Linked DNA regions of Homo sapiens: region 2 is linked to region 1. The links come from fine-mapping of genetic effects on gene expression. Tissue or cell type: whole blood. Region 1 holds a variant in brackets; the other region holds the start of a gene. All regions are shown on one strand. Distances are between the middles of the regions.

Region 1 (8,265 bases):
AAAGTTTCTCAGGCAGACCACTGAGAAACAATTTAATAGGTTAGACCAGAGATGATGGTGGCTGGGACCAGCAGGGAAGATAAAGAGGAATAAATGGATTCCAGCGATATTTTGGGGGTGGCATCAACTGGACTTGGTGATATATTTGATATCAAGAACACTTTCACTTACCCACACATATTCCTTCAGGAAATAATTTGAGGGCCTATTTAAGTGCCAGTCAATGTGACAGCTTTTAGCCATACCACATGAAGCAAAAATAGACACAAGATTTCTACACTCAATAACCATGGATGGGTGTGGTGGTGCATGCCTGTAATCCCAGCACTTTGGGGGACCGAGGTGGGAGGACAGCTTGAGGACAGGAGTTTGAGACCAGCCTGGGCGACGCAGTGAGAACCCACTCCTACAAAAGAAATTTAAAAATTAACTGGGTGTAGTGGCCCCTGTGGTCCAAGCTACTCAGGAGGCTGAGTCAGGAGGACTGCTTGAGCCCAGGAGTTTGGGGCTGCATGAGGTATGATTATACTACTGCACTCCAGCCTGGGCAACATAGCAAGACCCCAACTCTAAAAAAATAAATAACCATAAAAGTCTACCTGCCTTAAATGCTATAAGGCAGAGTTTATATGGGGTTATAGGAGCATATAGTAAGTCAGAGAAAGCTTCCCTTAGGAAATGATGAGCCAAGAGCTGAAGGATAAGCTAAAAGTTAACTGGGCAGAGAGTGGGGAAACAGGTTCATAGAGAGTACAGCATGTGCAAAGGCCTTGTGGCAGGAAGGAGCATGACATGTTTGAGGAACTAAAAACAATAAGGGTGTGCTGGAGTATAGGAATCAGGAGGGATCATGGAGCAGGGTGCGGTGGAGGGATGGGAAGAAAGACCAGAGTATGAAAGACGTTACAGGTCATATTCAGGGTTTGGCCTCTAGTCTGAGAATAATGGGAAACTGTTGAAAAGTTTTAAGGAAGGCAGAAGTAATGATTACAATTTCATTTTGTGAGGGATAAAAGACTACAAATTGGGTTCAGTGTACACTGCTCGGGTGATGGATGTACCAAAATCTCACAGATCACCACTAAAGAGCTTACCATGTAACCAAACACCATCTGTTCTCCCCAAACCTATGGAAATAAAAAATTAAAAAAAATTCATTTTGAAAATGTTCCTCTAACTGTGGAGAAGAAAAGGAGGGGCAGGGTGGGGAGCAGCATGGGGCGAAGATTGAATGTGGAGAGTCAGGAGGAAATTGCAGTGGTTAAAGTTTTTTTCTTTTTTTGAGACAGGGTCTCACTCCCATTGCCCAGGCTGGAATGCAGTGGTGCAATCTCAGCTCACCGCAGCCTTGGCAGCCCAGGCTCAAGTGATCCTCCTCCCTCAGCCCCCTGAGTAGCTGGGACTACAGGCATGAGCCACCACACCCAGCTACTTTTTGTATTTTTTGTAGAGACAGGTTCTTACTATGTTGCCCAGGCTGGTCTCAAACTCCCGGGCTCAAGCAATCTGCCCACCTCAGCCTCCCAAAGTGCTGGGATTACAGACATGAGCCACCACACCTGGCCAGGTTAAACATTCTTAATTTTGGTTACATTGCTTGGAGTTTTAAAAAATCTGGACGCCCAGGCTATACCCAATACCAGTTAAATCAGGATCTCCGTGTGGGGCGGCAAAGTGGGGGTCCCAGGCATCAGTCATTTTTAAAACTCCCCAGATAATTCCATAGCGCAGCCAAGTTTGAGAAGCAGTGATTTAGGCAGCAGATGATGGGTGTTGGCAGTAGATTTAGATACATTTGAGAGATGCTTAGGTGGCAATGATTGTATAAACAACAATAGGCTGGCAAAGGGCTGGTCTGCAAGAGGCCTGACAAGCACTCCTTGAGGGAGTTTTTCACAGAATAAGAGAAAGAATATTAAGTTGTTTATCAAAGTATAGGCTGTTTATCCTAACCATTTGGCCAGTTTTTGTTTGTTTGTTTGAGATGGAGTCTCACTCTGTCACCCAGGCTGGAGTGCAGTGGCGTGATCTCAGCTCACCACAACCTCCACCTCCCAGATTCAAGAGATTCTTCTGTCTCAGCCTCCCGAGTAGCTGGGATTACAGGCACCCACCACCACGCCTGGCTAATTTTTGTATTTTTAGTAGAGACAAGGTTTCACCATCATGGTCTCGAACTCCTGACCTCAGGTGATCCACCCGCCTCGGCTCCCCAAAGTGCTGGGATTACAGGCATGAGCCACCGTGCCCAGCCTAGGCCAGTGTTTGATCAGATTTTCAGGGCAGAAGGTATGTCTAGATTAGCAAGGATTTACATTTATGTTCAGTTCTCTGAGGTGTCTGATTAAATATAGACCATGATAGATCATGGTTATTGCTTAAGAAATTCTTCCTCAGTTAAAATTATTTCTCAGCACATATAATTTCATTGATTTCCTTAGGAAACATTTTTTGGGCACTGACTATGTGCAAGACAGAGTGGAGGGTATGGAGAAGGCTCTGTCCTCAGAGAATTCATAGCCTGGGAGGATAAGATGGCCCCTCAGAGGAAAGTTACCCTTGTATTACTCACCCTGGTGCCAAATAATTCAAATAACTCATTTTTCCAAAATAAAATATATGCCTTTACCAACAGCGTGGCCCTTAGGCTCTCTGACCCTCAATATTCTCACCTGCGAAAAGCATAAAAATAGTATCTACCTAATAGAATTGAGATACCCATATAAAGAATGTAAGCATTGTGCCTGTATGTACTATTACTATGCCTTCAAAAATGTTAGTTACTATTAGTATTATTGATCAAGAATAATGTATGCCAGAATCAATATCTGTAAAATACTAATACAATGGAATTGCATATATCACTGAGATTAATTTCTAAAATCGGTGCACAAGGTAAAAATCATGCATGATCAAAGTAATCCTTGAAAAATATCTTAGACTGGCCAGGTGCGGTGGCTCACACCTGTAATCCCAGCACTTTGGGAGGCTGAGGTGGGTGGATCACCTGAGGTCAGGAGTTTGAGACCAGCTTAGCCAACATAGTGAAACCCCATCTCTACAAAACACACACACACACACACACACACACACACACACAAATTAGCTCACGCCTGTAGTCCCAGCTACTCAGGAAGCTGAGGCAGGAGAATTGTTTGAACCCCAGGAGGCGGAGGTTGCAGTGAGCCAAGATCGCACCACTGCACTCCAGCCTGGGCAACAGAGTGAAAATCCATCTCAAACAAACAAAAACTCTTGATTGTTAAAGAGTGATATTATATTAAATCATTAACATATTTGGAATACACAGAATCCTCAGCAAGGTGGTTAAAGTTTCTCTGTGGTTATCAACTAATTATTCATTTTATTTTCCAACAATGACTTTCAAAGGAGTCACCACCACAAATCCACATGAACAATAACTGCATTTTGTCTGATGATAAGGAAATCCAAAAAATCATTTCACACTTTCTTCTCATAGCATCCCCAATCTGTGTAGCACGTTTCAGGGTTGATAACACCCACTGTTCTCACAACATTGACTGTTGAGTTCACCTGGTTAAGTTGTGTATGATTCAACCCCATCGTACAGCCTGCAAGGATCATGAGGAGTTGCTGAATGGAATTCCTCACACTTCTAAATTACTTTAATACATTTCCAGAATATAGTGTAATTAGAAGGCCATCATTGCTATTTGACTCCATAAAAAAACTTGAAAAGTCATGTGGTTGCTGACTACAGACAGGATCACACTCGATTAAATCTAAAAATCCTCAAAGATCTCATTTCTAGTCATACTCCTTGGGTTAGTGAAATGTTATCCATTCTTAATATCCAGAAATGTTTATTTCTTGAGATACTGTTGAAGCACTAAGGAATGCAGACTAGAACAGTGAAAGATTAATGATTTTGGAGTCTGTTCTGTGTCAGATGTGGACTGCACCTCTTATAAGCTATGTATACTTGGGCAAATTAATCTTTTTGAGATGGCAATATCAGTGTACAACTGAGAATTACTCTGAATATTAATGTAATAAACTCTAATATTCACCTAATAATATAATAAAGTTTTGTTACAATGCAGCCGGGCGCAGTGGCTCACACCTGTAATCCCGCACTTTGGGAGGCCAAGGTGGGCGGATCACTTGGGGTCAGGAGTTCGAGACTAGCCTGGCCAACATGGCAAAACCCCATCTCTACTAAAATACAAAAATTAGCCAGGGGTGGTGGCGGGCACCTGTAATCCCAGCTACTTGGCTGAGGCAGGAGAATCACTTGAACATGGGAGGTGGAGGTTGCAGTGAGCCGAGATGGCGCCACTGCGCTCCAGCCTGGCCGACAGAGTACGACTCCGTCTGAAAAAAAAAAAAAAAGTTTTGTTACAATGCTTTTGAAACACTAGCCTTTGGTTCCTTGAGCAATAATTGTATTAAAGTGAAGCTCTCTTTGAACCCTTATTTTTAGATAAGCAAAATTGTTAATGATTATAGATTAGAGGTTATAAAATACAAGGGAACACCAATGGGTATGAATTTAGGAACGGCAGTATCACCCAAGGTAGGAGAGTGGGTG[T/G]AGACATGTGAAATCTCAAGTAAGACCAGTAGATTTTGAGTTCTGCCTCTGCCATTTCCTGGCTGTGTGGCCCTGGGCAATGTACTTGTCACTCTGTTGCTTCTGATAGCAAAAGGGATGGTGAAATAGATTCAAGTTGAAGAAAGATAAGGTGTAAAGTGTTTTCTTTGGCTGTTGTGTGGAGGTTGGATTACAGCAGGAGTGTAAGGAAGAGGAAAGGATATCAGTGTTTCAGGTGAAGTCCAGGTGGCCTGGACCAGGGTGTGATGGGGGAGTGAAGAGAAGTAGGAAGTGAAAATTAATTGGATTTGGTTGGTGAGAGAGTGGTCAAGGGTGACTCCCAGGTTTCTAGTTTGTGTTATTATAAGTAACACAAAAGAATGGATGAACTTCATTGATTTCTTTGCTTTTCTCTTTTTTTTTTTTTATTTTTGAGACGAAGTTTCACTCTTGTTGCCCAGGCTGGAGTGCAATGGTGCGATCTTGGCTCACTGCAACCTCCGCCTCCCGGGTTCATGCAATTCTCCTGCCTCACCTTACCGAGTAGCTGGGATTACAGGCACCTGCCACCACGCCCGGCTAATTTTGTGTATTTTTAGTAGAGATGGGGTTTCACCATGTTGCCCAGGTTGGTCTCGAACTCCTGACCTCAAATGATCCACCCGCCTCGGCCTCCCAAAGTGCTGGGATTACAGGCTTGAGCCACCACGCCTGGCCTATTTTCTATTTATTGTGATATCTATCATACCTGCAAAAAATATTTTGTATATATTCAATTTAAAGAGTAATAATAAAATACTTATTTATTCCTTAGGTCAGTTGTGAAAAATAATTCCCTAATATACTTAAAGCCTTTGAGTCCCCCCATCCTTCCCCCCAGACGTACTCTCTATTCTGAATTTGTGTTAATCTTGCCTTTGCTATTGACTGTTTTTACCATATACGTATCTATTCCTAAATAACATAGTGATTGATTTTGTATGGTTTTGAACTTTGTTTATTCTGTTTGGAGTTCATTGAACTTTTCTAATCCAAAGGTTTATAGTCAATAAAATTTGAAAAAACAAAGAAACCTCTGAAAAAAGAGAAAAAAATAATTTAGGGATGGCAATGAGTACAATTTGATACAAAATAATGCACTGATAATGTACGACTAAAAAGGTTTGGGGGTACAGAATGAGATGTCGACATGCAAATTTATGTAATTTATTTCATTTTATTTACATTTTGGCATAATTCAATAATATGCCTCTTAATCAGAGACTGAACCAAAGAAACAACCTTTTGACTGAGTCCTTTTTCCCACATTTTAAATGCATTCATTTGTCTTAAACCCCAAAAGTTATTTTGTTACTGTGCACAACTGCTAAAAGGACAGTGTGTTAAAAATTAGGAGTGAGTAGTCTTTAAATAAATCCTTAATTTGTTTTAAATTCCAGATTGGAACCAGAAATTAGCCACAGTTTCGCTGAATCCTCGACCGCTTAATTCACTGCCAGAGCTCTACTGTTGTGAAGAGAGAAGCAGCTTTGAAAGAAATGCTTTTAAACTAAAATAACCACGGCATTCGAACAAAATAACGTTTGGCATTCTTAGGTGGCCCTTTTAGACTAAGTTAATGGCAGCAGAACTACTTTCAGTTTCAGTGTGTATACAGATGGCTATAATCCTAAAATATTTACATGTTGCAAATTCTTTGCAGATTAAGTTGGTCAGCTTAGAACAGGGAATCAAGATCTATCCTTAAGAGAACTTGAATTTAAGCCCCACTCCCAGTCTTATTGCTGATGCTGGCAAGCTATCTTACATTTAGGCCAATGTATACGCAGGATCAGGTAAGAAGATCATTGTGTCTGCACAATAATTGCATCGCTGTTGGGAAAAATAAAAAAAAGAACCGGGGGGACATGGCCAATTATAAAGAAAACTGGCACTGGAGACCCTCAAGGGGCTCTGGATGGAGAAACCCAGGTGTAGCCTGAGGCTGTAGCGAGATGTGGGACTGATAAAAAGGATTAACTGAGAGTCTGTGTCCAGGAGTTAGCACCCCTATCTTGGCAAGAAGAAAGCCTGACAACTAGGCATCAGCTCCTCAGGCAGAAAGCTAAAGGGTCTTCTCTAGGGAGAGGAAAGAATCCCAAAGGAAAAAAACCTTACATTTGGCTTCTAGGGACCCCTGCCCTCCCCCAGTTCCCCAGCATACTAGTTGACTCCCTCCTCACTCACTCTAAAGTAACACCTATTAACTGATAAACTTCTCCCAAGAATGCAGAGTTCCATATAGTTTTCCATTGCCTTAGTCTTAAATGTGAAGGGCCAATCAATGATCAAATGATAGGGTTCTCCAGAGAAACAGAAACAGAATATATATATATATACATATATATTATTATATATCTATAATATATATTATTAATAATCTAATAATATATTATTTTATATATAATATATAAATAATAGATATATTATTAATAATCTAATAATAGATATATTATATATATAAATAGAATATATATATGTATTATGTATGTATGTATGAAATGAGGATTTGTTTTGATGGATTGGCTTGTGCAATTATGGAGGCTGAGAAGTCCCAGGATCTGCCATCTGCAAGCTGGAAGCTCGTGAAAGCTGGTGGTGTGGTTCCAGTCCAAGTTCGAAGGTTGGAAAACTGGGGAACCAATGTTGTAAGTCTAGGTCCAAGTTTGATGGCCTGAGAACTAGGAGTGCTGATGTCAAAAGACAGGAGAAGATGCATGTCCTGGCTCAACCAGAGACGGCAAATTCATCCTTCCTCCATCTTTTGGTTCTATTAAGGCACTCAAAGGATTGGATAATGCCTGTCCACGTTGGTGAAGGACACCTGCTTTATTCAGTCTACTGACTCAAACACTACTCTCCTTCAGAAACCCCTTCACAGATACACCCAGAAATAATGTTTTGCCAGCTAACTAGGCATCCCTTAGCCCAATCAAGTGAACAAATAAAGTTAACCATCAGGCCAGGTATAGGGGCTCACTCCTGTAATTTCTGTGCTTAGGGAGGCAGAAGTGAGTGGATCACTTGAGGAAAGGAATTTGAGACCATCCTGGGCAACATGGTGAAACCCCACCTCTACAAATAAATACAAAAATTAGCCAGGCATGGTGGTGCATGCCTATAGTCCTAGCTACTCAGGAGGCTAAGGTGGGAGGATCACCTGAGCCTGAGGAGTTCGAGGTTGCAGTGAGCCATGATCACACCACTGGACTCTAGCCTGGGTGACAGAGTGAGACCCTGTCTCGATTAAAAAAAAAAAAAATTAACCATCACAAGTTTACCCCTTGTCAACTTGGCACCCATAAACATCTTAAACCATACTTAACTTCCAAATAAATAACAAGGTCATAATCCTGCCTAACATGATATTAACATTCTGCGCACAACCGAAAACACACTAATCCCAGGGTGTTTACCTCCCGGAAGAGGAGGTGAAGTCTTTGAATGATGTTTACTCTTCTGATAGTCTATAACTTAAATACTATGATGTAGCATTAACAATACTCAAATACTATATATAAGGTCAGTACATCTTATGTTATATGATGAGGGAATAAGACAGGAAATAAAGCAAACATTTTTGCCTAAAATATGTATGTATACGTACAAACATGCTTATTAAAAAATGAGGCCGGGTGCAGTGGTTCACCCCT
Region 2 (8,000 bases), 65 kb after region 1:
CATATATCAAGTGATGGGGTGTGCTTTCCCTTATGACTAACTTTAGTATTTTCTCTTTTTATTGACTTTGAAGCCTTGGAGAGAATACACACGGAACACTGCTCTAGCCTTTCCCGATCACAGGCAACTTCATGTGTGTCATTATAACCAAGACCACCGAAGTTACTTTCCTCAAGAACAATAAATAAGTAAGCCTTTGCTTAAAGCCTGGTATAAACTACTATAGTTAAGAAGTTTCTGTAGCTTCTACTCAGCAAAATACAGAAAACAAAGCACAGTATTTTACTTTGAGAGAACTGGGGAAAAAACAGTATTAGGCTTCCTTTTGTGATGCCAGAAAGGGACTTTCTTGGTCCCATACTTTAACCTCTTGAGAAACGTATTAGACTAGTACCTTTCTCCATCCCGACCTTCTCAACACTTTTGCTTACACAGCAGTTGTCCCCCAGATTGTGAGCTCCTTGTGGGCACAATCCCTGCCTTTTTCAGATTTTTGACTCCCAGGCTAAGTGATCCCCTGCAGATACTCAATGTTTACTAGATGAATGACCTGTACCCAGGGTTGGGCCTCTATTTAATTCTTCTCTCTTCTTCTTAAAATAAATATTGATTTAAAATTAAGGCAGCAGTAGTGGTTGTCCTTTGATGCAAGTCCTACATATTTATGGATCTGGGGAACCTACCAAGTTATAAATAACTCCCCATAAATCCTGAATCTGAACAACACAGGCCTTAAGCGCTGTTAAGAGTGAAAACGCCACTAGGTTTGCATCTATTGTTTCCAAAAAGGCATTTTATACATTAAAATTTATCATTAAATGCAATGCCAGTTTTTCTTTTTAAAACTATATTTTATGTTGGGAGAAAGTCCTTATGAGTCTACTGGTGAAATACGGATACATTATGTGTACATCACTTCTGGAGAAACAGTACTGAATAAAATTTGAACTCATGACATAAATATGGCAGAATATATTAAACTCTAACAAAGGACATATTTTCACTAACACACAAAACTTAAGACATCAAACAAGGCAATCCAAGCTCACAATGTCTTACTGTTGATTTTTTCCAGCTCTCTATACACACTCACTAAGAACTTCAACATTCCAATTTTATAACCTAGGGGAACTTCATTAAGTAGATGCCAGCTTACTAGGGCTAACCAAATAATACAAAGTTACCAAGGTAAATCACAAAAGAGATAATGCTTAAATCTATTCATTACTCATCTATTTTTTGCTAACAAGACTAATAAAGAATCCTAATGATACACTTTTAAAAAGCACTAAAAGAACATAAGGATTCTATAAGGAAGGTAGTTAAGTCAAAAATACACAGGTGAGGGAAGTCTGCCCAACAAGGCCCCTCATTTGTTTCTCCACTATCTTCAGCTAACATTTTAAAGCCAAACTTAGTTCCTTCTCAATCACTTCTCTAGCCTTTCCAAGGGCATCAGATCAGGTTGGTCCATGACTTCAAGACTACTTTCTCGGTAACATTAGTAACACCTTCTCCAAGCTACAAACTACTTCTAATATTTCTCCATAGAATATTAAAATTGAGGATCCTTTAGAATAAATACCATAATGGTTGTGTTCTCCAAACCTTCTTACAACCCATAGTGTAGCTCAACCTGAGCTATTTCCATATTAACGAGATGTCAAGATGTCAGTGAAGGAGACACACAGGCCTCAGCCTCTCTCCCGCTGTCGACAGCAAGAAAGCTCGGTATTCGGATACGTCTTCCCCACAGCATGACCAGATCTGAATGTAAGACAAAAGGTAGGTAAAGGCTGGATTTCTGGAGTATTTCCTAAGAAAGTGCGGGGCAGGAATTTAATGGCAACACCCTGAAGATTGCTAAGGTACAAAGTGTGTTGCCAGAGGGGTGGAGAAATAATAGGCTGGAAGGGAAGGAGGGAGAGGTGGTAGTGACAGTTTCCTAAGAGGCAATTAGTGCAACAGCTATTTCAGAATGGGCAGGGTGGATTTCTAAATGAAAACAAAACAAAACGAAACAAGGTAAATCAGAGAATATTTGCAGTATTTGCATTTAGCTTTTTAACATACCTGTGATTTCATTGTTTCTGCATGCTCAAAATGGTATTCAAGGGGGCCTATAACTTACTAGAACATATACAGCATGGCACCATCATATCATGCCATGCATGTTCAAAAACAAATATTCTTGCAACCTAAACAGATAGCAGTTAACTTCAAATATTACATTATGCTTTGTTTTGAAAGTGGTTATTGCTCATCTGCTTAGAATTTTGAAACTGGAGAGAGTTATCTGAGAGCCTTTACAAAGGCCTTACCCTGTATGCTGCGTCAAAGGAAACGACAAATAGGAAGAAAGGTTACACTGAAAACCACGTGTCTCCCGTTAGAAGTACATTACCACCTCGTTTTCCGAAAGTTCACTTTCGATGTCACCTTAACAATGCAAATATTTATTTCCAAATACTCAATTTGACATCCATGTATTTACTTCCCTCACTTTTTTTGAACAGAGAAGGGATTCCTTCCTCTGGGACCAACTAGTAAAAGTAATTTCTCCTTAACTTTCATGTATGGAGCACACTGTAAAAACAAAAACAAAAACAAGAAACTCAGGGCCCTAAAACAACAGTCCAAAGCCCAGAGGTGGGTGGGTTTGGATGTCAACAAAGTGGACCAGAGGAAGCAAAGCACTGCATGCCACGGTCCTGCAGATGGGGGATCGGTGAGTCTGATTTCAGGACGTTTCGAAACAATCCACTCCCACTCCGCCGCCCTGGGCGGGGCGGGGGGGCGGTGATGGGGGGTTCTGCCGTCGCGCCGGGTCTCCGCCCGCAGTCGGAAGAGTTGGGAGCAGGCCTCGGGCGGTAGCTCCTCAAACTCGGACCGCATCCCACCTCCACCCCGGCCTCAGTCCCGGCGCTGAGCACCACTCGCCAGACGCAAAACTGCAACTGCCAGGCATCGCGCATCTCTCAAAGGCTCCCCGCCAGCCCACCTCTTCCTCCAGGGCCACCCCAAGTTTCACCCGACGCTCCAGGTCAGGGGTCCCCGACCTCCCGCCATTTCTCCACGTAGCCGCAGCTCAGGACAGGAGGAGAGAGCCTCAAGGTGACACCTCATTTTGGCCAGTGGATCCGGGTTCTGGGTCCGAGTTCCCGGGCACCAGGAGCCAGGCAGCCCGAGCTCCCGGGCCCGGCTTCCCATGAGAGGCCCCGTCGCCTCACCTGGCAGCGGCACACGATGTCGGCGTCCTGCGCCAGCAGGTCCACCACCTTCCCTTTGCCTTCGTCGCCCCACTGCGCACCGAGCACCACCGTCACCCGGTTTCCTCCGGGCCGCGCCCTGGGGCGGCCGCAATCGCCGTTGGGCAGGGAGGATGCCGCCGGGTAGGTCTCGGCGAACGCCATGGCTCCAGTGACGCGAGGAGAGCCCGAAGGAGAGGCGGCCGGCGAGGAGTGAGCGAACTGAACTGCTCTGCGGCCGCCAGCCACATGCAGAGGAAGAAGGAGCCAGAGGCCGGCCCCGCCCCCGCCCCGCCGGGCCGCCACCCTCCAGCCAGTCCCCGCCCCGCTCTCCGCCACAGCCCGCTCAAGGGGGTACCATGACTGCCCCGCGCAGGCCGGCCTCGGCAGCACCGCCCGCAGGAAGAGGCCCTGGTGGCGGCAACGGCCGCCACCCCGGACCGAGGCCACGCCCCTTCCGCGGCCTGGCGCGCCACTCCCGTGCAAACCTCGCGAGCGGAAAAGGTCAGGGGCGGGGCTTCGAGAGCGCTTCTCCTTCAGCACCCCGCCTACCCGCTCTACCTCTCGCTTTCAAACTGGAGAGGCGCGGAAGCGCGTGTGGAGCGTCGGACTACAAATCCCAGCATGCAACGCTCTGGGCTGCGGCGGTGTATTCTGGGGCCACTGTGTCTGCCATCTGCAGGTTTGTCTGGATTTGTCTTTATTAAGGAATGAATGTGTACAAAATACAAACTGTGGAATTTCGCAGTACAAACAGCATAAAATCGGAACGTGTAAGTGTAGAATTGGAAATTAAAAGTCCGGAAGTAACAGAGATGGGGACAGGGATCAAAAAAGACAAAATTCAAAAGTAAGGCAATAAGATAAAGGACATGAGACCTGAAATCAATAGATCAAATAAAGTCCTAATCCTCATTTTACATAGTAGTAACAAAGGCTCAGAGAGGAGGAGTGGATTACCTATGTCGCATATAGTACATATATGCAGATACCGTCATGCACTTCTTTATTTTTTAATCCCCACAACCATATAAGGTAGGTGATCCTCTATTATCCTTATTTTACAGGATTTAAAAGCTGGGTAACTTGCCCTAGTGAGGCTTGAATTGGTACTTCGATAATCTAAGTCCAGAGCCCATGTCCTTCCTGTAGATTCCACTGTCTCTCAGTTACATTTGTAACTAGATTCTGGTGTATACCTACTGTTCATCTAATGCCCTTTCGACACCAACACAAATTAACTATGATGTTTAATTCTGATAAAAGGTGCTTCGAAAAAAAGTGGGAATGGAATCACATTATATGTACCGTCTCCCAAATCGCCTGTACATACTGTATGTTCACTAATGGTCCCTAGAGTACACTTTAGTATTTTATTTCTAGTCAATGAGTTAAGTCAGGAACATTGAGAACCTGCTATTAACTAACTAAGTGTCCTGGGCACTGATAACATAGGAGAAATAAAGATACAATTCAGCCCTCAAGGATTCAAATTATTTGGTCTATTGATTAGTAAACAATTATAATACTATGTGATAATTGTTGTCTATCTTGGCCTTATTACAAGATCACAAACATTTTGGAAACAAGAATGCCATCTATTTCTTTCTAGTCAAATGCCCGAGGTAGTGTTGGGCAGATAGTAGATACTGAATAAGCACACCTTACTAGTCATTTCCATTCAATTTTTTAAAATCATTTATGGGAGACTGATTTGAGTAATAATAAAACTCTGGTTTCCTGCACAGCCAGCTCTACATGAATTACTCTTTCTCTATTGCCATTTGCCTGTCTTGATGAATTGGCTCTGTCTAGGCAGTGGACAAGGTGAACCCCTTGGGCGGTTACAAATTTGGGGGCTTGTCTGGCATTGCCTTTGTGGCTACCTACTCGTGGTTCAGTGGCCCCCCTCCAGCAATGGATCCAGAAGCCTGCCCAAGCGGCCACCCAGTTCTCTTGGACTGGGGGCTGACTCTGGTACTCTCTCTACTGGTGGGGTGCTGCCAACCCAGTGTGCATGGATTTAATTGCAATGGAGAAATAGCCCCGGGGAGACGTCCCTTAACTGTAACCCTATCACAGGGTGTCTGTCTGTAGCCCCATTGCAGGGCAGGGTGTCTGGATTGGTGAGTATCCTAGGTGCTGCCAACGCCTCCTTTCTCCCAACTGGTTCTGTAGCCCTATGGTGAGGTGTCTGTAGCCCCATTGCAGGGTGTCTGTTCGGCTCCTGGGGGGGTCTCATTTGGCTCTTTCTAACTAGTAGGAAGAGTCCAGGTTTGGGAGACTTCTCCTGAATCAGGAAGATTTCAAGGAGGTTTCTCAGAAGGAGAATAGGAGGATAGTTTGGAAGGGATACTCCCGGAGTTCTTGGTTAGGGATCTGATTGGGAACGCCTTCTGTCCTCTCGTCTTTGTGTGCGTTTGTATATGTGGAAGGGATCTCAGAAGAGGTTGCTGATGGAAGTCCAGCAGACCTAACTCAAAACCCTCCTTATTTGTCTGGTCACATTTGATGAGCCCTACAGAAGGCTCAACAGGCCTGTCTCGGGGTGACTATCTGCTCTTCGTCTTGCCCAGAGACCCCATTGTGAATTACCGTTCGGAGGTCATCCCTCCCCACCTGGAGTGGATCAAAGACAACAGGGACCAAAGAGAAAAAGTTTTTGAGCTTTGCCAGGCTGATATTGGGAGCTGAACGAGGTGGCTAATGTGTGTTTTGTTATGTGTGTTTTGCTGGGATGGAAAATGTTAATTCGGTTCCCCATGCAGCCCGCTGGGCAGCATCTTGCAAATTAAGAATCTCGTCTATGTTTCCATAAAACAGTAAAGGGTGATTTTCTCTTGTAAAGTGGCTTGAACCCCACAGCTATAGCACAAGCAAGCAGGGTCATCAAAAGCCACTCCATTCTTCTGGAAACTGCAGAGAAAGGGAACCCGGAAATCTGGTATGCCGGCACAGAGGGTATGAAATTCTTACCGGACCGGTTTGTGGTCTCTCTCTCTCTTTCTCAGTAAATAGTAAACTGTTTACCTCCTCTGCAAGGGTTTGATAAATGGAAAAAAGGATTTGTGAGACTAGTCTTAGGCTGTAGCAAATCTGGTGTAGTTTTGTGCTAAGAATTTGTCTTTCTGTGTTCTGTAGTGGATAGATGGGTGTCACAGGATAGAACGTGGGTTTAGGACCCCTATAAGCCTGCTTTTCAAGCCGGCTTGGCAGGCTGGTCAGTTACAAACTTTGCTACAGGTCCCTGAAGCCAATACTGTATGAAATTTCTCTGTCTTGTTTTGTGTCCTGAAGAGCTTAACTTTGTGACCATGTGGAGATACTTTCTCTTGGTTTCCACCATCTAGAAGACAGGAATTTGGGGATTTTTAGGTTAGCCCTAAGAATTTTCTTGAGCAGTTAAAAGCCTTTGCAAGCTTGAAACTGGCTTCTGTAGGCTCCTTCTGGGAAGCACAATAGAAACTGCTCAATACTGTGTAACTCAGTAGCTAAGGTTTTGCCTCTTGACAGTGGGGGGTCTGGGTTCTATTCCTGGCTTCTGGAATGATTCCCTTCTGGTTTTTTATTTCTGTAACTTTGCCATTTATTGAGGTTCCCGCGTCCCCCCGCTCCCATGAATAGCTTCTGATTTCCTGTCTTGAATTTTCCTTTCTCTAAACTACCCTGGGGGAGATTCTACATCTTGTAGAAAAAAAAACTGCTTACCATCTCTTTGAGACACCTGTGTGTCCATGGTTATAAACTTAGTTAAAACTTAATTTCAGGTGGGAAGTTACCTGTGGTAGAATTCAAAAGCCAAAAATATTGGCCGCTTGGCGTGGCTAAAGTTGGGTATAAAATTTTTAAGGGTTTTTTTTTTTTTTTAAAGAGCGCTATGGTTAAAAGTCAGCTTAATTAAAAGTGGATAAACAAGCTGTAGGTATATTTAAAAGGCCTTTATGTTTCTCTCTTCTTGGATCTTGTTTTTCTGGAAAAAGATTATTTTTCTGGAAAAAGGTCTTTTTTTCCTTCTCAGTCAACTGAATTATTTTCCTCCACTTTTTTGTTTTGCCTATCTTAATGTACACATGAGAGGCCCTGAGATAGCTTCTGGTAGCCTGGGACTCCTTGGGAAAAACAGGAGGCACCACAGACCCCGTTTTGGAAAAAAGCTCTGTTTTCCTCATGAAACCCCAAGAATTAAAAGCAGACAGATCCCTCTCAAAATCCAAGGCTCTATTCTGTTTTGCATTGTGTTATCTGACGGTTTTGAGTTTTAGGGGCATCAGAAATTACTTCTCATTCTGAGAGAGCTTTGGTGTATAACAACTAGGTAGGAAATATACTTTAGGAGTTGGCTAATAGTAGTTACGGAGGCATACTTGGCTCTTCGCACACTTGGATCAGAGAAGCATGCTTTGGCCACCTGGAAGACATGGAAACACCCCCCCGCCCCCCAACAGAGAGATGAGAATCCCATGGGGGATGGTCTAATTACAAATGGACTGATTGGCTTTGGGTTGCGTTGCAGTGAAATGCATAGTTGGTAAAAGCACTGCACTGTCTTCTCTCGAAGTATTTCCGTCCTCTTGGGATCCAGGATCCAGTGTAAAGCGGCACCCTTAATTTTAAGAATCCGTCTTTGCCTTCAGCTGCTTGTTTGGCCCTAGAAACACAAGCTTTCCTAGCCCTGTTCCTCCAGGGGCTCCACCCTGAAGCCAGTAATCCAATTAAGAAACTGGCAAACAAAAAATCTTACAGGTGCTGAAT

The links. PIP is the estimated chance that this variant, and not a neighbour inherited with it, causes the effect.
Region 2: ADSS2 starts here. The variant in region 1 is fine-mapped to the expression of ADSS2 in whole blood (TOPMed, PIP above 0.99).

The regions. Positions count from the first base shown.
Region 1 is chr1:244,382,939-244,391,203 of GRCh38, forward strand. SPMIP3 (sperm microtubule inner protein 3) reads left to right here. Exons shown (of 5, transcript NM_001012970.3): 5 at 6,013-6,725. The coding sequence ends at 6,131. Among named protein-coding and RNA genes, the nearest start is that of SPMIP3, 34 kb to the left of the region's middle. The variant T/G (reference allele first, on the strand shown) is at 4,574.
Region 2 is chr1:244,448,405-244,456,404 of GRCh38, forward strand. ADSS2 (adenylosuccinate synthase 2) reads right to left here and starts at 3,505. Exons shown (of 13, transcript NM_001126.5): 1 at 3,231-3,505. The coding sequence starts at 3,413. It also overlaps a transcript of CATSPERE not described here. RefSeq lists silencers at 2,685-2,964, 3,405-3,894.